Linked DNA regions of Homo sapiens. The protein of the gene in region 1 purifies or fractionates together with the protein of each later gene. This does not show direct contact. Each region holds a gene or a part of one and is shown in the gene's direction. Other genes may lie near its edges. The genes, in order: POP7, POP4, RPP40 and RPP30.

Evidence for each region.
Region 2: the proteins of POP7 (region 1) and POP4 purify together in Homo sapiens (affinity purification with mass spectrometry; 4 studies listed by BioGRID and IntAct, with this or other methods). This does not show direct contact.
Region 3: the proteins of POP7 (region 1) and RPP40 purify together in Homo sapiens (co-immunoprecipitation; 4 studies listed by BioGRID and IntAct, with this or other methods). This does not show direct contact.
Region 4: the proteins of POP7 (region 1) and RPP30 purify together in Homo sapiens (co-immunoprecipitation; 5 studies listed by BioGRID and IntAct, with this or other methods). This does not show direct contact.

Annotation. Positions count from the first base shown.
Region 1 is NC_000007.14:100,700,920-100,707,986, forward strand, and holds POP7 (ribonuclease P protein subunit p20), read left to right. Parts: upstream 1-5,201; 5' UTR 5,202-5,385; intron 5,386-5,901; 5' UTR 5,902-5,911; coding exon 5,912-6,334; 3' UTR 6,335-6,567; downstream 6,568-7,067. UniProt on the Homo sapiens protein: Component of ribonuclease P, a ribonucleoprotein complex that generates mature tRNA molecules by cleaving their 5'-ends. Also a component of the MRP ribonuclease complex, which cleaves pre-rRNA sequences.
Region 2 is NC_000019.10:29,601,978-29,609,597, forward strand, and holds the start of POP4 (ribonuclease P protein subunit p29), read left to right. Parts: upstream 1-4,305; 5' UTR 4,306-4,341; coding exon 4,342-4,348; intron 4,349-6,679; coding exon 6,680-6,732; intron 6,733-7,620. UniProt on the Homo sapiens protein: Component of ribonuclease P, a ribonucleoprotein complex that generates mature tRNA molecules by cleaving their 5'-ends.
Region 3 is NC_000006.12:4,993,844-5,001,143, reverse strand, and holds the end of RPP40 (ribonuclease P protein subunit p40), read left to right. Parts: intron 1-512; coding exon 513-581; intron 582-1,239; coding exon 1,240-1,335; intron 1,336-2,302; coding exon 2,303-2,428; intron 2,429-4,723; coding exon 4,724-4,922; intron 4,923-5,058; coding exon 5,059-5,193; intron 5,194-5,867; coding exon 5,868-6,066; 3' UTR 6,067-6,427; downstream 6,428-7,300. UniProt on the Homo sapiens protein: Component of ribonuclease P, a ribonucleoprotein complex that generates mature tRNA molecules by cleaving their 5'-ends. Also a component of the MRP ribonuclease complex, which cleaves pre-rRNA sequences.
Region 4 is NC_000010.11:90,895,735-90,902,931, forward strand, and holds the end of RPP30 (ribonuclease P protein subunit p30), read left to right. Parts: intron 1-145; coding exon 146-183; intron 184-578; coding exon 579-658; intron 659-4,835; coding exon 4,836-4,945; 3' UTR 4,946-6,457; downstream 6,458-7,197. UniProt on the Homo sapiens protein: Component of ribonuclease P, a ribonucleoprotein complex that generates mature tRNA molecules by cleaving their 5'-ends. Also a component of the MRP ribonuclease complex, which cleaves pre-rRNA sequences.

The DNA of each region.
Region 1 (7,067 bases):
TTCTTTTTTTTTTTTTTTTGAGACAGTCTTGCTCTGTCGCCCAGGCTGGAGTACAATAGTGTGATCCTGGCTCACTGCAACCTCTGCCTTCCAAGTTTAAGCGATTTTCAAGTCTCAGCTTCCCGAGTAGATGGGATTAACAGGCGCCCGCCACCACGCCCAGCTAATTTTTGTATTTTTAGTGGAGACGGGGTTTCACCGTGTTGGCCAGGCTGGTCTCAAACTCCCAACTTCAGGTGATCCACCCACCTCAGCTTCCCAAAGTGCTGGGATTACAGGCAAGAGCCACCGCTTGCTTGCTTGCTTGCTTCCTTCCTTCCCTCCCTCCTTCCTTCCTTTTTTCTGTTTTTTCTTTCTCTCTTTCTCTCCTCTCTTCCTTCCTTCCTTCCCTTTTTCTTCCTTTCCTTCCTCTCTCTTTCTTTCTCAGACCCTCACTTTGTCACCCAGGCTGGAGTGCAGTGGTATGATCACAGTTCATTGCAGTGCTGTCCTCCTGGGCTCAAGCAATCCTCCTACCCCAGCCTCCTGAGTAGCTAGGACTGTAGGCACAGACCACCAGGCCTGGCTAATTTTTAAATTTTTTGTAGAGACAGGATCTCACCATGTTGCCCAGGCTGGATTTGCCCATTTTCTAATTGGGTTGTTCGGTTTCTACCTCTCGAGCTTAGAGAGTGCTTTATATATGCTGGAAACAAGTCCTTTGTTGGATATATGATTTGCAAATATTTTCTTCCAGTCTGTGGCTACTCTTTTCATCTTATTAATGTGATCTTTCACACAGCAAATGTTTAAACATTTTGATGAAGTCCAATTTATCATTTTTTTTTTTTGAGACGGAGTTTTACTCTTGGTGCCCAAGCTGGAGTGCAATGGCGCAATCTCAGCTCACTGCAACCTCCGCCTCCCGGATTCAAGCGATTCTCCTGCCTCAGCCTCCTGAGTAGCTGGGATAACAGGCGCATGCCACCACGCCCGGCTAATTTTTTGTATTTTTAGTAGAGACGGGGTTTCACCATGTTGGCCAGGCTGGTCTTGAACTCCTAACCTCAGGTGATCCACCCACCTCAGCTTCCCAAAGTGCTGGGATTACAGGCATAAGCCACCGTGCCCAGCCCAATTGTTTTTCTTTTATGGATTGTGCTTTTGGAGTCATGTCTAAGAACTCTTCGCCTTTAGCTGGGCATGGTGGCATGTGCCTGTAATCCCAGCTACTCAGGAGGCTAAGGCAGGAGAATCTCTTAAACCCGGGAGGCAGAGGTTGAAGTGAGCCGAGATCGCGCCACTGCACTCCAGCTTGGGCGACAGAGTGAGACTCCATCTCAAAAAAACAAACAAACAAAAAAACAAAACTCTTCACCTGACCCTACACCATGAAGTTTTTTCCTAAATCTACTATCCATTTTGTATTAACTTTTTGCATAGGGCTGAGGCTCATTTCTTTGCCTATTTGTCCAATTGTTTCACCACCACTTGAAAGGATCATCCTTTCCCCATTGAAACGCTTTTATACCTTTGTCAAAAACAAGTTGTTTGGCAGTGGCTCACGCCTGTAATCTCAGCACTTTGAGGGAGCTGAGGCAGGAGGATTGCTTGAGTCTAGGAGTTCGAGATCAGCCTGGTCAACGTAGTAAGACCTCGTCTCTACAAAAAATAAAACAAAATTAGCCGGGTATGGTGGCGCGTGCTGATAGTCCCAACTACTTGGGAGGCTGAGGCGGGAAGATGACTTGAGCCCATGAGGTTGAGGCTGCAGTGAGCCAAGATTGTGCCACTGCACTCCAAGCCTGGGTGACAAAGTGAGACACTGTCTTATAAACAAACAAAAAATTATTTTTTAAAGAGAGATAGTTGGCTGCACTTGTGTGAATCTATTTCTGAGCTCTCAATTCCATCTTATTGATTTTTGTGTCTATCCCACTGGGGAAACCATACTTTCTTGATAACTTTATTTATATAGTAAGTCTTAAAATCAGGTAGTGTGATTCCAACAACTTTTTCAAAGTGGTTTTAACTATTCTACTTCTTTTGCCTTTCCATATAAAGTTTAGAATAAACATCTATATTTAATACAAAAAAACTGCTGGGATTTTTGTAGGAATTGCATTACGCCTATAGATCAATTTGGGTTTTTGTTGTTGTTGTTTGAGACGGAGTTCGCTCTGTTGCCTAGGCTGGAATGCAGTGGTGTGATCTTAGCTCACTGCAACCTCTGCCTCCTGGGTTCCACCTATTCTCCTGCCTCAGTCTCCTGAGTAGCTGGGATTAGTACCAGGCACGTGCCACCACACCCGGCTAATTTTGTATTTTTAGCAGAGACGGGGTTTCACCATGTTGGCCAGGCTGGTCTTGAAATCCTGACCTCAAGTGATCTGCCCACCTTGGCCTCCAAAGTGCTGGGATTAAAGGCGTGAGCCACCATGCTTGGCCCCTATAGATTAATTTGAAGAGAATTGGTATCTTTACTATAATATGTTGGATCTTCCAATTCAATCCCAATCTTGTGGTTAATGAAAGAATCTGAAGTAAAGGAAAGAACTATGGGATTGAAATGGGGTGCTGGGAGCAAATTTCTCTAGAATCTGAACTCTCTTCAACCTTTGATCAAATGGGGTCAGACTCCATCCTAGGGAACTGAGAAGGGCCTGGGAGACATAAATATGCCAACTCACCTGTGTAGGTTTACAGTTTACAACATTACCTTGGGTTTCACAACTCAACTGCAAGAAAGGAATTAGCATCCCCATTTTTTTTAAACCAGTGTTTTCATATCCTTTATTCCCAAGTCAGTGTATTTGTCAGTTTGAATGTTACATGTATGATAAAACAGATTATGAAAAGCATACTAACGAGAACATTATTTTATATAACTGATCATTGAATATGCAACCTCTTGCAACAATAACTTAATGGACCCAACTCTACCTTCTAAATGGACCAATTTTATGATTCTCCTAAAATGTTTTGAGTTGGGTATAGTTTCTTGTTGCTTCTTCCTGTGATCCAAAGCTTAAAAATGAGGCTGGGCACAATAGCTCAAGCCTGTCATCCCAGCACTTTAGGAGGCCAAGGTAGGAGGATCACTTGAGATCAGGAGTTTGAGACCAGCCTGGCCAACATGGTGAAACCCCATCTCTACTGAAAATACAAAAATTAGCCGGGCGTGGTGGTGCACACCTGTAATCCCAGCTACTCAGGAGGCTGAGGCAGGAGAATCGCTTTAACCTCAGAGGCAGAGGTTGCGGTAAGCTGAGATCGTGCCTCTGCACTCCAGCCTGGGCAACGGAGCGAGACTCCGTCTCAAAAAAAAAAAAAGGAATGAATCTCTGGAAACTAGCAATTAGAGCCAGACCTCCCTAGGACCAAGGAGACAGGAGTTGGAGAAAAAGACACTACAGGTGATGCCCACAGTCTCAAGCACTGTGGCATATGCTTGACCTCAGAGCATTCCAGTACTCAAGGTCAAGTGTGGCACCATCCGTATATCCTGTCATCGCAAATGCCCGCAACTGCTACAATTAACAGGATATGGGAGAGAGGAGGCACATCATGTGAGGAGGAATGAATCGCTCCCAACAATTATGTGAACATTTCGAAAATTTCTTTTTTTTTTTTTTTGAGATGGAGTCTGGCTCTGTCCCCCAGGCTGGAGTGCAGTGGCGCGATCTTGGCTCTCTGCAAGCTCCGCCTCGTGGGTTCACGCCATTCTCCTGCCTCAGCCTCCCGAGTAGCTGGGACTACAGGCGCCTGCCACCATGCCCGGCTAATTTTTTGTATTTTTAGTAGAGGCGGGGTTTCACCGTGTTAGCCAGGATGGTCTCGATCTCCTGACCTCGTGATCCGCTCGTCTCAGCCTCCCAAAGTGCTGGGATTACAGGCGTGAGCCACCGCGCCCGGCCAACATATCGAAAATTTCAATACCAAGGATTAACTTCTAAAATACAACTTTATATGCTAGTGCATGCCCGTAGTCCAAGCTGTTCAGGTGGCTGGGGCGGGAGAATTGCTTGAGCCCAGGAGTTCAGGGCTGCAGTGAGCCGTGTTAACGCCACTGCACTCCAGCCTGGGTGACAGAGTAAGGCCCTGTCTCAAAAAAATGAAATAAACTGGCCGGGTGCGGTGGCGTGCGCCTGTAATTCCAGCTACTCAAGAGGCTGAGGCACAAGAATCGTTTGAACCCGGTAGGCAGAGGTTGTAGTGAGCTGAGATCACACCACTGCAGTCCAGCCTGGGCCACAGAGACCCTGTCTCAAAAATAAATGCATGCAAGTTTGTAGACAGAAGCTATACAGCTAGCCATTCAATAAAATGCATGTGCAATATGGTGGAGCTGTTGTGAACATCCCCATTTGAATGCTGGGCAAACAGAGTAGTTCAAGGTCCCCAGTGCAGCAGGTCCTACTCATTTCAGAAGGGAACTCTGCAGAAACTATGCCCATCTGGGCAGAGCCCCCACTCCACTGGCCTGAGAGCCACGAATCCGGCGCGCGTCCTCCCCACCTTGCCCGCCAGGGGGCGGCAAGTCCCTGATCCGGGGTCGCCTGCTGCAGAGCTGGTGGGAGATGGTTGAGGGGCGTGGGTGGGTCAGCGTTCCTTGGGGACCCGTGAAGCCTGGGCTTAGGGCTCACAGCGTGGGTCCCCAGCACAGACAGGAGGCGGACAGCTTCCCGTGAACTGCAGGGGAGTCCCGGGACGCTGTCCTCCAGCGAGGTGGGGACCGGCTATGTCCCTCAGTTCCCCCTCGGTCCTCGGGCCACAGGGACATTAGACTAGGGGGTCAGTTCTGCCAGCCCTGCCCAGGCCTCTTCTGACCAGAGGAGCTGCGACGGACGCGGAGTTCAGGCCCCTTGGCGACCGCGGTCTCCTGAACTCGGCCCCTTCCCTGCTCCCATGGGGAAGAACCCTGCCCCTAGAACAGCCTCCCCTCCAGGTGTCTTCCCTACGCTACCCCTCCGCCGGCCGGGAACTCCGCCAGGCCTAGAGACGCCGACCCGGCCCTTTCTAGCTCCTCCCCGGCTCGGACCTGGTTCCCGCCCTCGGCCGCCCGCCAGTTCCCGAGGCGTACACGTGTAGATCCCGTCACGCCCGGAAGTCTCGCGTTTCTCAAACGCCTCGCGCAGTCGCCCTTGCGCTCAGGGAAGGGGCGGGGCGAACGGAAGCCGGGAAGGCGATTCATAGCTCGCGGGGTACGGGCGCGCGTGCGCACTCCGCAGCCCGTTCAGGACCCCGGCGCGGGCAGGGCGCCCACGAGCTGGCTGGCTGCTTGCACCCACATCCTTCTTTCTCTGGGACCTGGGGTCGCGGTTACTTGGGCTGGCCGGCGAACCCTTGAGTGGCCTGGCGGGGAGCGGGCCTCGCGCGCCTGGAGGGCCCTGTGGAACGAAGAGAGTAAGCACGGGAGGGGCGGCGGAGGGGCGCGAGTTTGAGGGCGACGCGATGAATGAATCGGAACGGGGGGTGGGGAGACGCGGGATCTGGAGGTGAGTGGGAGAGGACGAGGGGCCGGAAGGAAACAGGGACATCGAGTGTGTCCCTTCTCGGGTGCACCCTTTATTTTTGTTTTTGTTTTTGTTTGAGACAGAGGCTTGCTCTGTTTCCCAAGCTAGAGTGCAGTGGCGGGCGCGATCACGGCTCACTGTAGCCTCGAACTCCCGATCTCAAGCGATCCTCCCCCCTCGGCCCGGGTAATTAAAAAAATTTTTCTTAAGACAGGGTCTTGCTATGTTGCCCAGGCTGATCTCAAACACCCGGGCTCCAGTGATCCTCCCGCCTCGACCTTCCAAAGTGCTGAGGTTACAGGCGTGAGCCACTGCCCGGCCAGGTGCACCCTTTGTACAGGAAAAGGGGTAGGAAAGGCTTCGAGGTCCCTCTGAGCCCTCTGATCGCGTCCCTTTCCCACGCCAGGGCACACAGCATGGCAGAAAACCGAGAGCCCCGCGGTGCTGTGGAGGCTGAACTGGATCCAGTGGAATACACCCTTAGGAAAAGGCTTCCCAGCCGCCTGCCCCGGAGACCCAATGACATTTATGTCAACATGAAGACGGACTTTAAGGCCCAGCTGGCCCGCTGCCAGAAGCTGCTGGACGGAGGGGCCCGGGGTCAGAACGCGTGCTCTGAGATCTACATTCACGGCTTGGGCCTGGCCATCAACCGCGCCATCAACATCGCGCTGCAGCTGCAGGCGGGCAGCTTCGGGTCCTTGCAGGTGGCTGCCAATACCTCCACCGTGGAGCTTGTTGATGAGCTGGAGCCAGAGACCGACACACGGGAGCCACTGACTCGGATCCGCAACAACTCAGCCATCCACATCCGAGTCTTCAGGGTCACACCCAAGTAATTGAAAAGACACTCCTCCACTTATCCCCTCCGTGATATGGCTCTTCGCATGCTGAGTACTGGACCTCGGACCAGAGCCATGTAAGAAAAGGCCTGTTCCCTGGAAGCCCAAAGGACTCTGCATTGAGGGTGGGGGTAATTGTCTCTTGGTGGGCCCAGTTAGTGGGCCTTCCTGAGTGTGTGTATGCGGTCTGTAACTATTGCCATATAAATAAAAAATCCTGTTGCACTAGTGTCCTGCCATCCCACTGCCACTGATTCTTTCCTGTGTAAATTCTGTGTGTGCCTGAATAGGGATGGTAGGAAACGCTACAGGTATCTAGGTGAAAGGGGAACCCAAGTGTTTCTTGCCTCTATAGAGAGCATAGATTATGCTATGAGCAGTGTAACAAAACAGTACAGTGCAGAAACCCAGTCATCCCAATGTTTGTTTGTTTGTTTGTTTTTTGAGACAGAGTCTCACTCTGTCACCCAGGCTGGAGTGCAGTGGTGCAATCTTGGCTCACTGCAAGCTCCACCTCCTGAGTTCACGCCATTCTCCTGCCTCAGCCTCCTGAGTAGCTGGGACTACAGGTGCCTGCCACCACACCCTGGCTAATTTTTTTGTATTTTTAGTAGAGACAGGGTTTCAGCGTGTTAGCAGGGATGTTCTCGATCTCCTGACCTTGTGATCCACCCATCTCGGCCTCCCAAAGTGCTAGGATTACAGGCGTGAGCCACCGTGCCCAGCCCCA
Region 2 (7,620 bases), on another chromosome or scaffold:
TAAGACTCCATCTCAAAAAAAAAAAAAAAAAAAAAAAAAAAAAAAAAAACTAGAAATAATGTTTTTCTTTAATCCGAAAGTGGAGGAGAGGGGATACACAAAAAAATACTTCTCCACTATATTGTCAGAGGCTATTAGATAAATGGTTTCTGTAAATTTAGTTGTGTTTATTTACAGAAGTCCTAATTTTCGTGGATACCCACTTACTTAATAGTTGAGGCTTAATCTTTTTGAGCTTACATATGAGATTTTTCTTGAATACTCAGAATAGCAGCCTGAATGTCTCAGAGCAACAATCAAAAGGAACCTGTACAAATACAACAAAGTGTGAATTGTAGAATCAAAAAGCATATGGGTGTTCACTGTTTAAATGTTTCCATTATTCTGTATATTTGAAGTTTTTCATAATAAATTGCTGGAGGTCGGAGGGGAGTCACCTGCAATGATTCCATCAAACATTGACTTCTCGTGGAACTTTCACAAAGCCACTACTGGGAAAACACATGTGTATCCATGTTTGAAAGTTTATCATTTATAGCTATAAAAAAGAAAAAAATTAAAGTCTTTTCACCAAATGCAATTTAGAAAAGAGAAACAAAAGGAAAAATCTCCCATAACTTCACTTACCCGGTTATACAAACTTTTAGTATATTCATGTAACTATTGTGTATATATTTGGCTTTATTAGTTTGTAACCTTTTTAAAAATTGTATGTAATTTGTTTAATGGCTGCATGGTAATCCATCATGTTATAGAAATGTGTTAGCAGTGGCAGAGAACCGAGTTACCCCAAGTAACTGGAGACGAATCCGTACGCGTTCGCAGCAACTTCAATCTTTGCCTTGTCAAAAGAAAGAATTTGACTGAGGGGCAAAAAGCAGAAAGAGACCAAGGCAAGTTTCAGAGCAGGAGTGGAAGTTTATTAAAAAGCTTTAGGCCGGGCATGATGGCTCACACCTGTAATCCCAGCACTTTGGGAGGCCGAGGCGGGTGGATCACAAGGTCAGGAATTCGAGACCAGCCTGACCAACATGGTGAAACCCCATCTCTACTAAAAATACAAAAATTAGCTGGGTATGGTGGTGTGTGTCTCTAATCCCAGCTACTTGGGAGGCTGAGGCAGGAGAATCGCTTGAACCTGGGAGGTGGAGGTTGCAGTGAGCCAAGATCGTGCCACTGCACTCCAGCCTAGGAGATAGAGCAAGACTCCGTCTCGGAAAAAAAAAAAAAAAAAAGCAAAGCTTTTGAACAGTAAGGAAAGGAAAGAAAAGGAAAGTATTATACAAGTTGGAAGGACAAGCAGGCAACTTGAGAAACCAAGAGCGCAGCCTGACCCCTTGACTTGGGGTTTTACACGTTGGCCTACTTCCAGGATCTACTTCCAGGATCTTACATTACTTCTCCCCACTCCTGAGATCTTACAGGAAGCTGCTGATCAGTTTCAGGTGTTTTCTATCTGTTAGGCGGCTGCCTGTTCCCTAGCGCCAGCTGTGGCCAATTACTTTAGAGAAACAGTTAACAACCACCTGACCATCACCTGATGGTGGCCCAACACCCCTGGTGTGTGTAGCGGGGAGCCTTCTCCTGCCCTGCTCATACCTGACTACCTACCTACTGTAACAAATGTGCCATACCTAGGAACAGTTTATAAAAACAGATTACTGGGACCCACCTTATAAAAACAGATTATTGAGACCCACTGGATAAAAACGAATCTCCAGGTATGATACCAAGAAATTTGAAATGAAAGCTTACCCTGTGATTGTGATCCTGTATTTGGTCTGTGGATCAAGCAAATTAAGTGTGTGCTAACTAATCAGGTAAATTAATGCATTTAATAATGCATTAATTAGCATACCTAATTACCTAATTAGCACATAGTTAATTTGCTTGATCCACTATGATCAAATATAGCATTGTTTTTAAGTTTTTGCTATTATAAACAAAAATCACAAACATCCTCACAGGTATCTCTCTGCATACAGAAACATTTTCTGAGAATAATCAAGTGGTTTGTTTGCTTTTTATTTTTTTTGTTTGTTTGCTTTTTAAAAAATATTTTAGGCTGGGCGCAGTGGCTCACCCCTGTAATCTCAGCACTTTGGGAGGCCGAGGCGGGTGGATCATGAGATCAGGAGTTCGAGACCAACCTGACCAACATGGTAAAACCCTGTCTCTACTAAAAATACAAAAATTAGCTGGGCGTGGTGGTGTGTGCCTGTAATCTCAGCTACTCAGGAGGCTGAGGCAGGAGAATCACTTCAACCTAGGAGGCAGAGGTTGCAGTGAGCCGAGATCACACCATTGCACTCCAGCCTGGACAACACAGCAAGACTCCGTCTCAAAAAAAAAAATATTTTAATGATGAAGGAACTATGTTGTAATTGCAACTCAAGGACGACCCACCCCACCACCATCAGGGAATTCGAGGGGAGACTGGCAGTTATCCAGGGATCCCAGAAGGAGTCAACTGGGAGTTAAGAGTCCTAACAACCCTAGAAAAAAACTTTCAAAGACACAGGTCTTCTCATTAATCTCCATAATCACAGAGGTCTTGCCTAAAAGGGCCCCCCTTGAGTACACAGCTCTGAAACTGGCTAACATCTTCTGCTGTCTCATTTGATTTTAAAGTTCACATTTGTGAAGGGCTCTATTGTACAACATGGTGACTATAGTTAATAACAGTGAATTTCAGTTAATAACCTGAATTTCACTGAGAGTAGGTCTGAAGTGTTCTCATCACAAAATGAGTGTATTAGCATCGCTCATAGCTCATTTAGCCATTACACAATGTATACACATTTCAAACCATATTGTATACCATAAATACATACAATTCTTATTGGTTAATTTTAAAAATAATAAAAGTTCTCTATCAGTCCCATAAATTACAATTTTCAGGCATCTGCAAAGGCAGCATGTTTTGGTTTAAATGTGGTCTTTCCAAATTTTATACGTATAAAATAAATGCATAAGTGTACTACATATGCAAAAACTAATACATAAATTTTATAAAGTCAATGCACGCGGGGTCACTGGGATGAACCAATTTCAGTGCCTGCAGTCTAATGTTTAAAATCAAAATGGTACAAGGTCACCACCAAAGAAATTGTTTAAGCCAATGTTTCTCAAACTAAAACCTTTGGACATACTCCCAGAATCCCCTGTAAAGAAATGTATACTGTACTCAAAGTTGAGAACCACTGACTTAGCATAAAGGGACCGTATTTCTTTTCTCTCCCACCCAGCACAGGCCCAGTGCTCAGCAGAAATTGGGGCTCCACAGTTCTGCCCAACACTGGGTCACTGCTGAGAAGTCTGCACCAGGCCTTCCTGCACCTTTCCACTGAGCAATGGAGTTTGTTTATTCATTTATTTATTTATATGGAATTTATTTATTTATTTTGGAGACAGGGTCTCACTCTGTCACCCAGGCTGGAGTGCAGTAGCGCAATCCAGGTTCACTGCAGCCCTAAACTCCTTGGGCTCAACTGATCCTCCCACCTCAGATACCCGAGTAGTTGGGACTACAAGCACGCACCACCACGCCTGGATAATTTTTTTTAAATGTTTTGTAGAGATGGGGTCTCCCGATGTTGCCCAGGCTGGTCTCGAACTCCTGGGCTCAAGAGATCCTCCCGCCTGCGCCTCCCACGGTGTGAGCCACCTTTGATCTTATTGCTATGATTTTTTTATTGATAAAAACTAATAAATATTCTGAGTCTCAAGAAAGCTTTCTGAAACTATCAAAGGGACCCAGGCGGCGCATCACTACCTGTGAGGCCGACCCCACTCACAGCACAGACTGCAAGTGAGGCTTACAGATGGGAAGTGCCCTAAGCGAGGTTAAACAGCTAGTTAGCAGCAGACACGGAACTAGAACCTAAGCCTGCTGTCCCAGCTTCGGTGCCCGTGCTCACAGCGGAAGCTGCCTCGGCTCATCCGTAAGGGCGCTGATTAGGGACGACAAAGACCTCACCCCACCGTCCCCGTCCCATTTCCGCCCTCCCAGATCCCCAACCTCCTTCGAGTCCTCTCCAAGTCGCCTCGCCTCGCTCCACTCCAGGCCTTAGCAAGCATTCCACATGCCTTTACCCCAACCCTACTGCCTGTCCCCCAAAAGATGCAGGCGGAAAAGACCCCAGGAAGCGAGCCCACTCCTCCCCACTGCTCAGCAACACCGCCTACGACGTTCTCAGTAGCCGAATCCCTTTCCAGGCGCATGCGCCCCCGAGGTGGGCGAGCGCCGGTGATGTCACGCATAGCGCCATCTCCGAGCTCCGAGAGTCTGCGACAGCAGCTGCCAGTGCGTCATCAGAGAGCGCCGGAAGCGGTCCGAGAATGAAGAGTAAGCGGGGCCGCGAAGTTGGAGAGGGTTGGGGACGTTAAGGGTCGGGGTCTTGGTACTGGTGGGTGAAATGGGTCCGGGCTACCTGTTGCTGCGGAGTCCTAACAGAACCGCTACAGGAATGGGCCCACCCTACCTAAGAAAAACTGAGGGCTGGAGCACGGGTTAGCCTGGCTCGACCTCTGAGCTAGGGAGGGATGTCAGGGCTGGAGGCAGGTTCTCCCGGAGGCTGCTCAGTGGTGTGCGATGCTAGAGGAGGGTTCCAGGCCTTGGCTCAACTTGGCCACTATCTCCCGGGGTGACCGCGGTCAAGATCCTGCTCCTTTCTGCGAGCTGGTTTCACACTCTTAACCTGATGCAAAGCGCCGAGAGCTGCTGGGGAATGATATCACTAACCCAAAGCTTTGGTCCTTAGGGGTAGAAGACATGTGCCAAGGAGGGGCGTGTAGACACCGTTAAGACTGGGCCTTCAATCAGAATTTTTATTTTTCATCTCTGCCACTTTCTACCTATATGATCAAGTAGATTGTCTCGGCATGTCTGAGCTTCAGTTTGCTCATGCACATAAGTGTAATGAGAAAAAATATGTGTACCTTGTAATGAGGTTTCTGGCAAGTAATGGATGTTCAGTAATTGTTAGATGTGTATTGTTGCAGAAAGACTTCCAAGTCTGTTACTAAGCACCTGTAACAGATGAAGCAAAGTTATCAGGCCCCGCAAGTTGCTCTCTACAGTTTATAATCCCCATCTTCCATTTGAGGGAGAACTAGATGCTATATATAAAACTTGCAACCACATTGGTTTGCTTGATCAAACAAACATACCTGGCTGGGTGTGGTGGGACACGCCTGTGGTCCCAGCACTTTGGGAGGCTGAGGCAGGGGGATCACTTGAGGCCAAGAGTTGAAGACCAACTTGGGCAACAACATAGCGAGACCCTGTCTCTACAAAAACTGGAAAAAAAAAAAAAGAATTAGCCAGGTGTGGTGGCACACACCTGTAGTCTCAGCTACTCAGGAGACTGAGGTGGGAGGATCACTTGAAACCAGGAGGTCGAAGTTGCAGTGAGCTATGATTGTGCCACTGCACTCCAGCCAGGGCAACAGAGCAAAACCCAGTATCAAAACAAACAAACAAACAACAAAAAAAAAAAACTTGTAACCACCTTGCATCAAACATTCTCAGGGAAGTACAAGAAAGCTGGAATTAAATTTACAGAGTATAGTGTAAATTACATTTTCTAGCTATTTAGCTCATAAACCAGGCCTTAGTAGTCCCATTCTTATTCCATTCACACCTGTACTCTGTCCCCAGTGCCATGGTTTTCTTCTTTCAAAAAATTAAGAAACAGAAGTGTGGAATTTATTTTAGAGGTTGAAACTTTATTGACCAATGTATATTTTGAGTTTAAAGGAAAAACTTGTATTTTATCAGTTCAGGACACCATCGATTATGTGACACATTATAATTTCATATTAAAATGTGAAGAATCTTTTTAAACATCTTACAGTTAACAAAACCTATTTCTAACCATCTACATCCTAGACAGCTATATCATATAACTTTTAATGAGTTACCTTGTTAGCAAGTGCTCAAGCTTCTAACTTGGGGTATTTTAAACCAATGCAACTCAAAATGTGATTCACTGACCTGCAGTAGTATCTGGGAATATGTTAAACACTCAGGATCTAGGGTAGGAGACCAATAATCTGCATTTTAATAAGATCCCAGAGATTTTTACACACGTTAAATTTTGAGAAGCATTCTTTTTAAACCATGTGCTTGGAACTTCTAGCATAGATGTGGCCAGAGGGTGGGATAAGAGGCATCCAAGAAAGCTTTGCTCTTAATACCAACCTCATCTTCTCCTATCTCTGAATAAGCAGTTGTTCTGCTATAAGTGTAGAAGTGTAGTTATTTTCTTTTCTTTTCTTTTCTTTTTTTTTTTTTTTTTTTTTTGAGACAGAGTCTCACTCTGTCACCCAGGCTGGAGTGCAATGGCACGATCTTGGCGCATTGCAGCCTCTGCCTCCCAGGTTCCAGCGATTCTCCTGCCTCAATCTCCCATGTAGCTGGGAATACAAGTGCAAGCCACCATCCCCGGCTAATTTTTGTATTTTTAGTAGAGACGGGGTTTCACCATGTTGGCCAGGCCGGTCTTGAACTCCTGACCTTGGGTCAGGATCCGCCCGCCTTGGCCTCCCAAAGTGCTAGGACTACAGGTATGAGCCACTGCGCCTAGTGGCGTAGTTATTTTCATAGTTAGAAAAGTCTTGGGTCTTACAGCCATACCCAACAAGAATTGATCATTTCTTTTTTTTAATCCCCCAGGTGTGATCTACCATGCATTGTCTCAGAAAGAGGCGAATGACTCCGATGTCCAGGTCAGTTCTTGGCAGGGAGTCCAGGAGCAACAGAGGTGATGGCAAAGATGGCTCAGTAGCTTCTGAGCCCCCAGCACTGATTGAGATGTCCTTTCCCACATCATACTCCTCATTTTTCTGGCAGACATCTAAGGCTGGATCAAAGTCTGTAGTTCTCATTACCTGTTCCCACGTGCCAGCCTCCTTTTCTGTTGTGCCAAAGTCAAGTTTGGTAAAATGAGGCTTTCCTTAACCTTTTATCATTTCCCACTGTGTTGGGGACACCAGGCTGTGCCCACGTGGTGGGCAGCATCATTCAACCTTGTCACTGTGCCCTCTGCACTTCTGCAGAAGGTGTGCAATCACATATCATAAGTGAAATTTACAGATTATATCTGAATGCCTCGGCCTGCTTTGTCAGTTTTGCAAAAGTTCCTCTTGTGGCTCATAATGAGAGCATTACCTTGAAAGCAAGATTTTGAAAGACCAGTATACCTTTATTTTGCTTCTCCATGAAAGATGAGCCACTCAGGTATTTAAGAGAATCAGATCATTGTCCTATTATAGTCACAATGACGAGAGTGAATTAATTTTTAGTTAGCATCTACAGGTGCAAAGCTGAAGCAGAGTTCCCACCATCATACTGTGAGCTCCCTCGAAGGCTATATGTACCCTATCTTCCCATCCCCATTGCTCTCCCACAGAAGGAAGGCTGCGTTACTATTGACAGATCAGCATCAGTCTGTCAGCCTCAGTCTTAGCATTTAGCACCTGGCTAGTGCAAAAAGAGCTCAGGAAACAGCCCAGCCAGGAGACAGGCCCTCAGGAGAGAGAACTGCCCAGGTCTGTGGCAGGCATGAGGGCAGTGGCATTGCCACCAAATGAGGAATCCGTTATTGGAACTCCAAC
Region 3 (7,300 bases), on another chromosome or scaffold:
TATGTTTATCTAGAATTCTACTTTGGACCCCTCTCCGCGCATCCCCAAAGGTCACGTTCCGTTCTGAGTCAGTTTTTTGCTTGATGATAGTAAACTTGCACAAATAGGCTGTTGGTCAGGGAGTGAACTAGCTGGAGCTTGGTCTTCTGCAAGCTTGGTCTTCTGCATGCTTGGTCTTCTGCATGCTTGGTCTTCTGCATGCTTGTTCTTCTGCATGCTTGGTCTTCTGCATGCTTGGTCTTCTGCATGCTTGGTCTTCTGCAAGCTTTGTCTTCTGCATGCTTGGTCTTCTGCATGCTTGGTCTTCTGCATGCTTGGTCTTCTGCATGCTTGGTCTTCTGCATGCTGCAGCTTACCCTTAGCAGATGTTTGGTTTATTGAGTGAGCTGGAGCAGGGGTAGAAACTGACCTTTAATGACCCGGAAGACTGGTTATCTTGTAAAAATAATCCACTAACATCTTGCAGGTGTAATTTCTTGTTTTAAATTTTTCCTCTGTACTTTCTCTTCCAGGTTCTTGCTATGCACTAACATACAATACACATATTGATGAAGATAATACTGTTGCCCTGCTACCAAATGGTAACACTTTATTTTTTCATCTTTCTTTAATTGTTAAAAAAAAATGCATACTGTAAAAAAAAAAAAAAAAAAGTCAGCTGGGCACGGTGGCTCACGCCTGTAATCCCTGCACTTTGGGAGGCCAAAGCAGGTGTATCACCTGAGGTCAGGAGTTCGAGACCAGCCTGGCCAACATGGTGAAACCCTGCCTCTACTAAAAATACAAAAATTAGCCGGCGTGGTGGCTCATGCCTGTAGTCCCAGCTCCTTGGGAGGCTGAGGCAGGAGAATCGCTTTGAACCTGGGAGGCGGAGGTTGCAGTGAGCCAAGATTGCGCCACTGCGCTCCAGCCTGGGAGACAGAATGAGATTGTCTGAAAAAAAAAAAGAAGATATTCAAAAGAATGAGTATACCATGACTTATTTATTTCATCTTTAGTAGAAATTCAGATTATTTTAAATTTCACTATTATAAATAATATCCTTGGATGTATAATGTATAAATAATATCTGTTACAAGACATGTATACACATAAATAATATTCTTGTGATATAAATAAGATCCTTGTATGCAGTTTGTTACATTGATATCTAACTGCTCAATTTGCCTTGCTTTCTTTTAGTCAGACAACGTAAGTTCTAGTTTTGGTATCTTATGGGAGTTATTATTTGATTTATAGGGAAATTAATTTTGTCACTGGATAAAGACACTTATGAAGAAACTGGACTTCAGGGTCATCCATCTCAGTTTTCTGGCAGAAAAATTATGAAATTTAGTAAGTATCATGTGTGTTCCATCTGTTTCTAATCTTCTTGTGGCAATTTAAATTTAAATGTTTGAATTGCCTCTAATCTCTTTGTTCAAAAAAATGTGGCCTTTTAAAAAAAATCTGTCAAACTTCTGACTCGAGCTTCACAGAGGATAGGATGATGCTTTTAAGTTCATTTCTTTTCAGCTGTAGATGCATTTAATAAAGATTGTAGACTTGGACTGGTCAATTAAATATATATGTTTCGGGTTAAACCTTGGCAGGCCAAGGCGGGCGGATCATGAGGTCAAGAGATTGAGACCATTGTGACCAACATGGCGAAACCCCATCTCTGCTAAAAATGCAAAAATTAGCTGGGCGTGGTGGCGCATGCCTGTAGTCCCAGCTACTCAGGAGGCTGAGGCAGGAGAATTGCTTGAACCCGGGAGGGGGAGTTTGCAGTGAGCCAAGATCGCACCACTGCACTTCAGCCTGGCGACAGAGTGAGAGTCCATCTCAAAAAAAAAAAAAAAAAAAAAAAAAATTCCAAGTACTGAACCCAAGATAGGAGTCTACAACTTATTCTTAATAAAGAATTTCCTTTGGTTTCCCCAAGTCTTTATGATTACTAGTAGAAATTCACCCATGAGTGAAGAGATGTTTTGCTGACAGCGTCTGGCTCGAACATCAATAGCTAAGGCCGCCACATCCATAAGTAGATTAAACCTGACCTCTCAAGGTCCTCTGCCCTTGGTCTTTGACCTAGGAAACATATAAATTGAAAATGTCTGTTTTTATTAGCTCTCAAGGTTAGAAGTGCCCACCAAAGGGATCTTATTTATTTGGCAAACCAAAGGGAGTGGAAGAAGAATAAAATAATTTTACTATCCATAAAATTTCCCAAAATTCTAGTTTTTAAAAATGTAACACTTTTTCCATGGTAGAAGCTGTACGTATATGAATGAAATATATGTTCTTTTTTTCATTTTTAAAGTTGTTTCCATTGATTTGATGGAATTATCCTTAAACTTGGATTCTAAGAAGTATGAAAGAATATCTTGGTCTTTCAAAGAAAAGAAGCCATTGAAATTTGATTTTCTTTTGGCTTGGCATAAAACAGGTATGAGGAATAAATTATGTAATGATACAGTGATTTTGAAAGTAATTGTTAATTAAAGAGGAGTAATGGAGGATTGAATGGTGATTCACTCTTTAGTCAAGGAATATTCTATACGTATATATAAAAATATTATTAAGGAAACTAGCCCTTCTGACATCTCTGAAAACCATAGTTCAGGATCATGTAGGCACGCAGGCCTTTCTGCCTGCGTCTCTTTGGGTTATATGTAGATCCAGAGATCTTGAGAGTGGCTTCAGAGCAGCTAAATTTTATCTATTTCTCCCCTTTCCTCTCTCCAGCTTACCTTGAACAGCCTTGACTATAATATTTTTAAGTAGCACCAATTATATACACAATCTGCTTATTTATTATCACAGGGTACTGACTCAGGCCTACCATTAAATGTCAGATGAATTTATTCTAACTTTTAATTGATTAGGACACTAAATTTAGTTCAAAGTTTGCTATTCACCACACAGCGTAATCTGCCTAAAACGGCCATGTATGTTGCTCCTTTTAGAAGTGTATCTTTGACCCAGATAATAATGGATCAAGTCATCAGGAATTATGGTGTAGTACTCTCTTTTGGAGGATAGGAAGCATGGTGGTCTGTTTTAGAAATAGCCCCATCTGTCTGCTCCTCATGGGAAGTGTCTCGTCACTGGGTGCTCCAAGTTGCTCCCATGAGTCCTAGGTCTGGCCTTCGGTGCCTCTCCTTCCATATATGGTAGATAGAAAAGAGGGCAGAAAGGCTTATTGAAGTTTCAGTTGCGTGAAGTCTTCTATGCAGATCATCCAGACGTTGGATTCTGGATAGCTCCCTATTCCTAAAGCTCCTAACTATTTTAAGGATTTGTCAGGACTGTGAAAGTTCTGAGATTTCCTCATACTTGCAGGCTAACTAGGTAGCCTGCTACAGTCTCAGGGATGCTGGCAGAAGACACATAAGCCCTGGGTCAGAGACACAGGACTTAATTCCTCAGAGGAATGGTAGTAGCCAAAATGTATTAGTCAGGGTTCTCCAGAGAGAAAGGACCAATAGGATGGATGGATGGATGGATGGATGGATGAGAGGAGATTTATTAGGGAAATTGATCATGCAGTTATGGAGGCTGAGGAGTCCCACGACAGGCTGTCTGCAAGTGGGAGACCCAGGGATGCTGGTAGCCTGGCTCAGTCCAAATATGAAGGCCTGAGAATCAGGAAAGAAGATGGTATAATTCTCAGTCCAAGGCCAAAGCCTGACAACCTGTGGATCTGCTGGTGCAAGCCCCAGAGTCCAAAGGCTAGAGAACCTGGAGTTCTGCTGTCCAAGGGCAGGGGAAGAAGGGAGTCCCAGCTCCAAGGGACAGCGAATTCACTGTTCCTCTGACGTTTTGTTCTACCTGGGGCCCTAGCCGGGTAGATGGTGCCACCCACAGTGAGGGCAGATCTTCCCACTCAGTTTACCCACTCACCTGCCAGTCTCCTCCAGAAACACCCTCACAGACACACCTAGAAATAATGCTTTACCAGCCATCTAGATGACCCTTCATCCAGTCAGGTTGACACCTAAAATTAACCATCACACCGAATATCACCATTTGCACCAGTTCACCAAGTCCCATTTCCAGAGTGACACCAAGCGATGCTGGCACATGCAGTAGGTTGCATTACAGGAGAGGAACCTGGAGTTTAAGAACTCCAGTCCTTTGTAAGGGACAGTAAGCCTGCTGATATCTGCCCGGAGAGAGGGAGGGTGACATTATTTCTATTATACTGGACAGTAAGCAAGCCTGCCCTTTGCCGTGGAGGGAGTACTATCTCTGTCTTCCAAGGCCGTTGGCTACACAAACATCCCTGAAAAGATACGCTGGATTTTATTGGGTTTTCAAAGTCAAGCTGGGATGAGGTTCAATCACCATTCAGTTTCTCTTCTTTTTCTTTAATAGAGGTTGTGCAGATAAGCTCCTTCTCTCTGGAGTTCACTAATATTATTCATACATCAGGAATGCTTTTGGTTTTAAGTGTGAAGTTGAAATTTTTTTATTAGCACAAACAGTGAAACTAGTTTGGGTCTGATCAGAAACTGTTGTGCTTTTCCAGGAAAAGTGTGAAAAACGATGAACGTTTACAGAACTTGAGCAAAAGGAGCTGAAAGCAGCTTTAAATGATTTTAATTTGAATGCAGCTCTGCACAGCTTCCATCTTACTCAATCTTACCGCTCAGATGGGAATGGGTGGGTTCAGGTATTCACTAAACTTGCTTACGATGGTCAGATGGATTCAAATGGCCTTGTGTGGTGTGTTTTTAAGGTTCAGAAGAATCGACAATGATGTCATATTTTTCCAAGTACCAAATTCAGGAGCATCAGCCAAAAGTAGCACTGAGCACGTTGAGAGATCTCCAGTGCCCAGTGCTGCAGAGCAGCGAGCTGGAGGGAACGCCAGAGGTGTCCTGCCGGGCTCTGGAGCTCTTCGACTGGCTCGGCGCCGTCTTCAGTAATGTCGACCTGTGGGTATCTGAACTCCCTGTGTCTTCCAGGGCTCTGGCCTGCTGCTTGTTTTTAATAGGAGTTTAATACTTTGGAAGTGATCATGTGATGGATATACATGTGTTATCTCTCTCTCTTTTATTTTTTTGGTGACAGAAATAATGAGCCTAATAATTTCATATCAACCTATTGCTGTCCTGAGCCAAGCACAGTGGTGGCAAAAGCTTATTTGTGTACAATCACTGGCTTCATACTTCCAGAGAAGATCTGTCTCCTATTGGAACATCTCTGGTGAGAACTCTTTACCTTTTATATCGCTCATCAGTGCTCTATAGAACAGTATGTCGAATAGTATAGATTTTTTCATTTTGGGAGGTGGTATATAAATAAAATGTACATTGAAAGGAACTCAAATCGCCTATTGCAAAGACCGTACATTGAGTATAATCCTATTTAGTAAGCATATCTTCTCAGTCTTCCCTTTTGAAATGTCAGATTTAAGTCTTGAAGGTTTTCCTTTTTAAGCCCAACATCCTTTTTCACATTTATTGGTTTAGTACTTTGACTTTCTTCGATAGGAAGGCTGGATATGAAAAATCTGGTGAATTATCCTGCAACGTTTCAGTTAACTGAGACTCTGAGAACAGTACTCTTAATAGGAGGGAAAGGATCCTTAAACGCCTGTGGGGTTTTTTGTTTTGGGTTCTTTTTGTCTTAAAGACCTCCCAGAATGAGGGTGGGAACAGCTGAGGTTTGTTTCATGTGTTGTATATTAGTTAATCCTTATGGAGTTCACAGTGTGACATCAGGAACTTATCACACACCTCTTGATTTTCAAAAATTAAAGCTAAGATCTAAGCTTTATTAGAATATCAGAAATACTACTTATCCTGAATAAATTTTTTAAAATGCAGACATTCCTAACTCTCTTTTAAAACTCTGTTTAACAACTACCTTTTTTTCAGTCACTACTTTGATGAACCGAAGTTAGCTCCATGGGTTACACTGTCCGTTCAAGGCTTTGCAGACAGCCCTGTTTCTTGGGAAAAAAATGAACATGGTTTTCGAAAAGGAGGAGAACATTTATATAACTTTGTGATTTTTAATAATCAGGACTATTGGCTTCAGATGGCTGTTGGGGCAAATGATCACTGTCCACCATAAAAAATAAAAATTAAAAATCGTGTTTACTTACATTTACGCTTGCTTTCAGATTTCTTAATGGTAAAAGGTCTGTGTGTCCACTCAGGCTTGTGTGATGGTGACATTTCTCAGATCAGCATTTGCTGGCATCCTGCCCTGCACCTGAGACCCATCTGTGATGGCAGCAAGGCCTGCTGTCCAGTGAATAGCTCATAGTTGATTTCTCTCTGTCAACATAAGCACAGGGTTGTGGGTTACTATGTGGTACACTGGGCCAGGATGTCCAGGGACCGGGGATATTGGTCCCCATCTCACTCCATTGGTTGAGATATATTTTGTTCATTACAACTTTTTCAGATAATAAAAAGAAATCTCATCCTTACCAGGGCCAGTCCCTGTTGTAAGTGCTGTTTATATATTACCATGTTAGAATCTCACACCAACCCTTTGAGGAAACTGAGGCACAGTGTGTAAATACACTACCGAAGTTATAGTGGCAGTGGACCTGAGACTTGATCTCAGGCCAGCCTAGTTCCTAAGTGTGTTCTCACGCTAATGCCTCTGGATCAGAGAGGGATCAATGGATACTGTAAATCGTTACAGAACAGGTTGAAAGAATTTTATTTCCAGCAGTAAGGCTGATAAGGACCAGTTGAAAACAACTAAAACTTTAGAATACATATGAAGAACCATTTTTTTTTTATTATACTTTAAGTTTTAGGGTACATGTGCACAACGTGCAGGTTAGTTACATATGTATACATGTGCCATGTTGGTGTGCTGCATCCATTAACTCATCATTTAACATTAGGTATATCTCCTAATGCTCTCCCTCCCCCCTCCCCCCACCCCACAACAGGCCCCGGTGTGTGATGTTCCCCTTCCTGTGTCCATGTGTTCTCATTGTTCAATTCCCACCTATGAGTGAAAACATGCGGTGTTTGGTTTTTTGTCTGAAGAACCATTTTTTTAATGTAAAAAACAAGAGCTGCAAAATAAGAGTTCTTAAAGGGAAAAAAAAATTTTTTTTTTTGTAAATGGAAGCAGAAACCCAAAGAAGTAAGTGGAGTACTGACGCCACTTTTCCGCCTTAGTGCATCTGCCAAATGCCAAATTGAAGTTTTCTTCTCATAGCCTGGGGTGGGAAGGGGCTGCAGAACAGCACACAAAGCTCAGGGCCTGCCCAAGGGAGGAAAACTAACAGGAGACCTCATAAAGTGAGACTCCAAAAGGATAGATGCAATGTAGGGGTAAA
Region 4 (7,197 bases), on another chromosome or scaffold:
CTATGAAACCCATCAAAATTATAAGGACTTAAATTTATGTAATTTTTTTATTTTTGGATACTTAAATTTTCTATTAATTTGCTATAAGTCATTGAAATGTTATAAATAATTTTCTCATATCTACTCTTTGTTCATTTTATTTCAGCCTTTAGAAATAAGAGGGCCATATGACGTGGCAAATCTGTATCCTTTTCTGAGTAAAAAGTTGTTGACATTGTCTTTCAGGAAATTTTGAATTTGAAGTCGTATTATAGTTGAACATGTATTTTTCTCAACCTTTTACTGTAAGTTTACCAATTAATAACTTCAAAAATAAATTATATAACATTATAGAGAGCTTTATGCTTCTGTTTTTTAATTAATCATGAGATAGAAAAGAGGGAATGAGGGACTTCATATGATAAAAGCTTAGAGTTAAATGAGTCTTTTCTCAGATGCATGTTCCAGTTGGACTAAGAACTGCTGTTGAATTAATTAGCCTCTCAAGATGACCAGGTTAGCTGGCACTTTCTGTTATGTTTGTGTTAGTCTCGTGTCCTTGGGTGACTCTGGGTTGAAATCTTTAATGCTCCCCCAAGAGGCTTGCTGTTTGGGCTCTCTGAAAGTGACGCCAAGGCTGCGGTGTCCACCAACTGCCGAGCAGCGCTTCTCCATGGAGGTAAGCAAGTTCTTCCAGTACAAACTGAATGGTCATGTTAAAAGCAAGTCATTTTTACAGCCATACCTATTTTTATTGCCCTACCCTACAGAGTTCCTTTGGGATCATCTTTTCTCAACCTGTTCTAAACACAGTCATCAGTGTTTTCTCACCCTCACTTCAGGCTTTACTTTCTAAAGTTTGTAGAATGAATATAGTTTTCATTACAGAAATAAGTATTGAATAGTTCTTCCAGCTATACATGTGTGCTCCTGCCGACATTTTGATAGGCTTCTAATCTCCCTTCCTTCTTCTCCCTCACCAGAAGGCCATGCTTTCCCTGTTGAAAATCTCTGTTTTAGAGAACGGATATGTTAAAAATATGTGTTAAACTATTTATTAGGAAAACAAAACCAGCAAATACATTTTTAAAAATCCAACTAACAAAACATAGACTGTAACTTTTACATTTATTATAACTCAGAATGTTTCTTTTCTCATGTTTGCTTACATGGTCAAGTTGTGTCCAGACTGTACCTTTTTTATTTTTTTTTCTTTTTCTAAATAGAGACAGAGTCTCACTATGTTGCCCAGGCTGGTCTTGAACTCCTGGGCTCAAGCAATCCTCCTACCTCAGCCTCCCAAAGTGCTAGGATTACAGACATGAGCCACCATGCCCGGCCAGACTGTACATTTTTTACTCACATTTTGTATATGTACCTTTTCACTGACTGAGTTTCCTGCTCATCAGATGTTAAAAATTGAAAGTATGCTGAAACTTTGGAAAATGAAAGTGAAATTTTATTAAAACAATTTAAGCTTTTGATCACTGTTTTGTCTTCGTTATCTTTATAATTCTTAGGACTAGTTGTAGTGGTTAAGAAGCAATTTCATTGATATCACCCAAGTGAATTTTAAACTTCAAAGTAGATTGCTACATATAGACTGAGTTATTTGTCATATGAATAGCTAGGTTATTGAGGGCTTGTGTGTTGGGCTTTATTGATCTGATTTCCACTTGAGAGAACTGCTTATGTATTGGCTTGCCGTAAATTAGATGATTTTGCTTTTAGTTTCAACATTTTTAGTTTGAGATTTTTGTATTATGTAGCCTAGAACTCATCACATAAGCTTTGGGAGTGGTCAAATTAATGGAGATTTTGAATAATGATTTTCTTGAAATTAGGGAACAGTTGGTTCACACTTTGATAGTTCTGTCATTATTTTGATCTATTTTAAATAAACATTCATCAGGATTTTGAGTAACAGTTGGGGTTCCAAAATGGACTAAACAAGAAACAGAAACTAAAATATAAATACATACATAATTTTATATATAGGAAAATAGGAAGTCCTGCATTTGACTTTAAGAACTCAGCTATTCAGCATATAACACATAATATGTAAAGTATTTTTTTTTAGAATTTCTTTTTGTGGGTACATAGTATGTGTATATATTTATGGGGTACTGAGATATTTTGATATAGGCATGCAATGCATAATAATTACATCATGGAAAATGGGGTGTCCATCCCCTCAAGCATATGTCTTGTGTTATAAACAATCCAATTATGCTTTTTTAGTTATTTTTAAATATACAATTAAATTGTATTGACTATGGTCACCCTCTTGTGCTATCATATACTAGACCTTGTTCATTCTATTTTTTTTGTACCCATTAACCATCTTCACCTCCCTCTCAGCCCCCCACTACCCTTCCCAGCCTCTGGTAACCATCCTTCTACTTTCTGTCTCCAGGAGTTCAGTTGCTTTGATTTTTAGATCCCACAAACAAGTGAGAACATGTGATGTTTGTCTTTCTGTGTCTAAAATCAGGCTTTTATAGAAGCTAAACTTAAAGAAGACTTGTGAACTTTGGGTGGCATTACCATTCACCCCAGTGTACCCAGGACAGTTCTAGTTTATGCCTGCTGTTTCTGTGACCTTATTAGCACTTCTATTCCCTGAAGAGAGTCCTAAACTAGATGATAAAATATGGTTACCCTGGTTTTCGTTGCCATTGGGATCAGTATGAGACGGTAGTATGATGTGTTCTTAAGATTGCTAATTCAGCCTAGGTAATATTAGAAGAAATAAAGGATTCTGAGACAAGGAAATTCAAAGCCTCGTTATTATACTCTCATTGATGAAATCTCAGCCGGCATCTGTATCATTCTGAGTGCCACATTTAAGAAGGACAGCAGTGCACTGAAACACTATTGGAAAATGTCTACTCAGTCCTTAAAGGGTCTGGAAGCCTCATGATGAGAGGAATCACGAGGGTGGTGCAGACATGGATACCTGGCAAGCAGAAGAGTTGGGACACATGGTAGTTAGCTTTCAACTTGGAAGGCTTGCCACAGGAAATCAGAATTAGGTTCTTTGGGGGTCCAGAAATCTAGAAACCAATGAATAGCAATTCTGAGGAGGTTGTGGGGAAAGGACAGAGGAAAGAGGCCCAAGGTCAGGGTCTTTGGCCTGTGATTGATAAAGTTCATGCCCTCAATCAGCCCCTGGACCAAAATGAACCTGTTGGGGACACCTGCCTTAGCCCCTTGTGAACAAAATTATTCACTCGTAGATAATCCTTTAGATTTTCCTTGGCAAGATGATTAAAGGAAATACTATATGTGAAAACATTTTATAAACTAAAGCATACACAAATGTAACGTCTTGCTGTTACCAAGAAATGCATTTATTTTTAAAAGACACTAAAGAAATTAATGCATTTTGTTAAAAAGTGCTGATTTTCATAATGTTTATATTTCAGTTGATTTTTAGACTATGGGTACAGAATCAGTGACATAAATTAATAGCTATAAGTGTGACGTTTTTCATTTGGTGAAATGGAAATCATTGACAGTTTTTATTTTGAGGTTCTTATTATGTTGGCATTTTAATGACCTTGAGAGCAGTTTTATCCCTTTTACAAATAAAAGTGTTTTAAAATAATTGGCAGAGTAGATTTACTAAGTTAATCTTGATAAATGGGAAAATAATGCTTAACACTTTATGGTTGACTTTACGTTTATTACTTGAAATAAGGAATAATTCATAGCTAAATTTCTGTTCAAGTTCTTTTGATTCTGCCACCTTTGTAGCTAATGGGTATCTCTCTCTTTCTCCATAATCCCTTTCCATTTCTAAGGACAGAGTTTGGGTCTGTTTTCATGACACTATGGCCTTTCATAAGTTACCCTTCCAAACTCTATTTTCTCCTAATTTTTTTGTATTCCTACTTCACATCAGCCATATTGTCCCCTAAACTATTTTACCTAGGTTCTTCTTATCTTTCTCTCCATGCCTTTGTAAAGGAATATTTCTCTTTTTCTTACTCCGTTTACCCTATTCTGAGTAGTGTCACCTTTATATAATACCTCATTGCTTTAACCAGGCAGTTAATTCTTGTGGATGCCTCCATTCCTATTATATTTGCTCTTATTGTGCTTCTCGCATGCATGTAGTATAGGGAAAAGCACTGTCTGTTAGGAATCTTAATACCCTCTGTATGGACACAGTGCCTAGCCTATTAGTAGGTTTCTAGGAAAAATTGGTTAAATTTAAGTTGAACTCTGCTGCCAGCCTAATCTAAGCATTTAATAATTTCTATTTATTCTTTGTTCATTGTCACCAGTTAAAGAGATCAATAAATTTATGAGTGATTTTATTCATTAACTCAACTAGTATTTACTGAACACATTTTGCATAACCAGGCCATTGTTGAGTGTTGGCAATATAATGCAATTGATTCTTCAGAGGTACCTTGATGTTCTAATAAGAGAGATAGGGTACATGCTGTAAAATGAGGCAAGCATGTGCTCCACATGGGAGCCATACACTTGATTGCTGTGTTTGCTCTCTTGATTTGTCTGTCTACCATATATAAAGTGTCTGCTACATCAATGTCTGTGACTGGGTTCTGGCTACATAAGATGCCATGGACAGACCATTAGAGATAACACTGTCCTGCAGTTTTACCCATGAGGTAATCTTTAGGAATGAATTAGATGTTAATAATATACTGATATTTGTGTCTGTTGGGAAAAAAAGATAATGACGGTAAATGGCACTAGCAGCCATAGCAGTTCATTATGGCTTATCATTTGCTATTGCTGTAAGCCAAAGTAATATGTTAAACCACCTCATTTTAAATTATGTCTTAACTTCAAGCACAGTGGTTTCCCTGTTTGTTTTACAGAAACTAGAAAAACTGCTTTTGGAATTATCTCTACAGTGAAGAAACCTCGGCCATCAGAAGGAGATGAAGATTGTCTTCCAGCTTCCAAGAAAGCCAAGTGTGAGGGCTGAAAAGAATGCCCCAGTCTCTGTCAGCACTCCCTTCTTCCCTTTTATAGTTCATCAGCCACAACAAAAATAAAACCTTTGTGTGATTTACTGTTTTCATTTGGAGCTAGAAATCAATAGTCTATAAAAACAGTTTTACTTGCAATCCATTAAAACAACAAACGAAACCTAGTGAAGCATCTTTTTAAAAGGCTGCCAGCTTAATGAATTTAGATGTACTTTAAGAGAGAAAGACTGGTTATTTCTCCTTTGTGTAAGTGATAAACAACAGCAAATATACTTGAATAAAATGTTTCAGGTATTTTTGTTTCATTTTGTTTTTGAGATAGGGTCTTTGTTGCTCAGGCTGGAGTACAGTGGCATAATCACAGCTCACTGCAACCTCAATCCTGGGCTCAAGTGATCCTCCCGCTTCAGCCTCTCAAGCAGCGGGAACTACAGGTGTGCACTACCACACCTGGCTATTTTTTTTTTTTTTTTTTTTTTCCCTTGTAGAGACATGGTCTCACTATGTTGCTGAGGCTGGTCTCAAACTCCTAGGATCAAGCCATCCTCCCGCTTTGGCCTCCTAAAGTGCTGGGATTACATGAGCCACCACATGCAGCCAGATGTTTGAATATTTTAAGAGCTTCTTTCGAAAGTTTCTTGTTCATACTCAAATAGTAGTTATTTTGAAGATATTCAAACTTATATTGAAGAAGTGACTTTAGTTCCTCTTGTTTTAAGCTTCTTTCATGTATTCAAATCAGCATTTTTTTCTAAGAAATTGCTATAGAATTTGTGGAAGGAGAGAGGATACACATGTAAAATTACATCTGGTCTCTTCCTTCACTGCTTCATGCCTACGTAAGGTCTTTGAAATAGGATTCCTTACTTTTAGTTAGAAACCCCTAAAACGCTAATATTGATTTTCCTGATAGCTGTATTAAAAATAGCAAAGCATCGGACTGAACCAACTTTGGAAATAATTTATTTTTATAATGGGATCATGTTAAGTAGAAGTAGCTTTTTATGCAAATACATGCATTTATGCAATATTAATGTAAGGGCTCTAAAACAATGGAGTAGAGCCAGAGGTATAACTGAATAAGAAATTTTTTTAAGCAAGAGAAAGACAACTGTTCTGCGGGTTGGAGAAAATACAATTTTTTTTTTTTTTTTTGAGACAGTCTCGCTCTGTCCCCCAGGCTGGAGTGCAGTGGCTCGATCTCTGCTCACTGCAAGCTCCGCCTCCTGGGTTCATGCCATTCTCCTGCCTCAGCCTCCTGAGTAGCTGGGACTACAGGCGCTCGCCATGTATTTAGCAGAGACGGGGTTTCACCGTGTTAGCCAGGATGGTCTCAATCTCCTGACCTCATATTCCACCCGCCTCGGCCTCCCAAAGTGCTGGGATTACAGGCGTTAGCCACTGCGCCCGGCCCGAGAAAATACAGTTTTAAAAAGAGAAAGCTTTATAACCTCACCAATGAATACAAATGTTTAAATAAAATATTGATTAAAAAAACATTAAAAGTGCATCATGACCAGGTGAAATTTATTCTTTTTTTCTTCTTCTTTTTGAGACAGGGTCTCACTCTGTCACCCAGGCTGGAGTGCAGTGGCACAATCTCGGCTCACTGCAACCTTTGCCTCTTGGGCTCAAGCCATCCTCCCACCTCAGCCTCCCAAGTAAGTGGGACCAGAAGCATGCACCACCACATCCCAGCTAATTTTTGTATTTTTTTGTAGAGATGGGGTTTTGCCATGTCCAGGCTAGTCTCAAACTCCTGGCAGATTCAAGCAGTCTGTCCGCCTCAGCATCCCAAAGTGCTGGGATTACAGGCACAGGCATGAGCCACCATACCCGGCCTTCCAGTTCTTTTTAATGCAGTATCCTTTATCATATTCATAGGTCAAAAGAGAAAAATCAGAATATTTTTAATAGATGCCAGAAAGACATTTAATAAAGTTAAATCCACTCCTGATTTTTAAAATGACAACAATAAAAACCCATGGCAAAATTAAAGTAGAATAATATTGTATGCATACATATATATGTTCATATGTGTCTGTTTTTTGTGTATATTAAATGTGATGGCTCCAAAAGCATTTTTGACTACCGCTTGGCCAATTTGATGGATTAACCTACTCATTCCTTCTGTAAAACTGAGGCTGGTGCTGCTGAGGCCACACACCAAAAGTCTGCCACTTCCTTGTGTGCCAGTTTGCTTTTTTCCTTCACCCTGCTTAAGTTCACCAAAAGTCAGCTGTGTTTA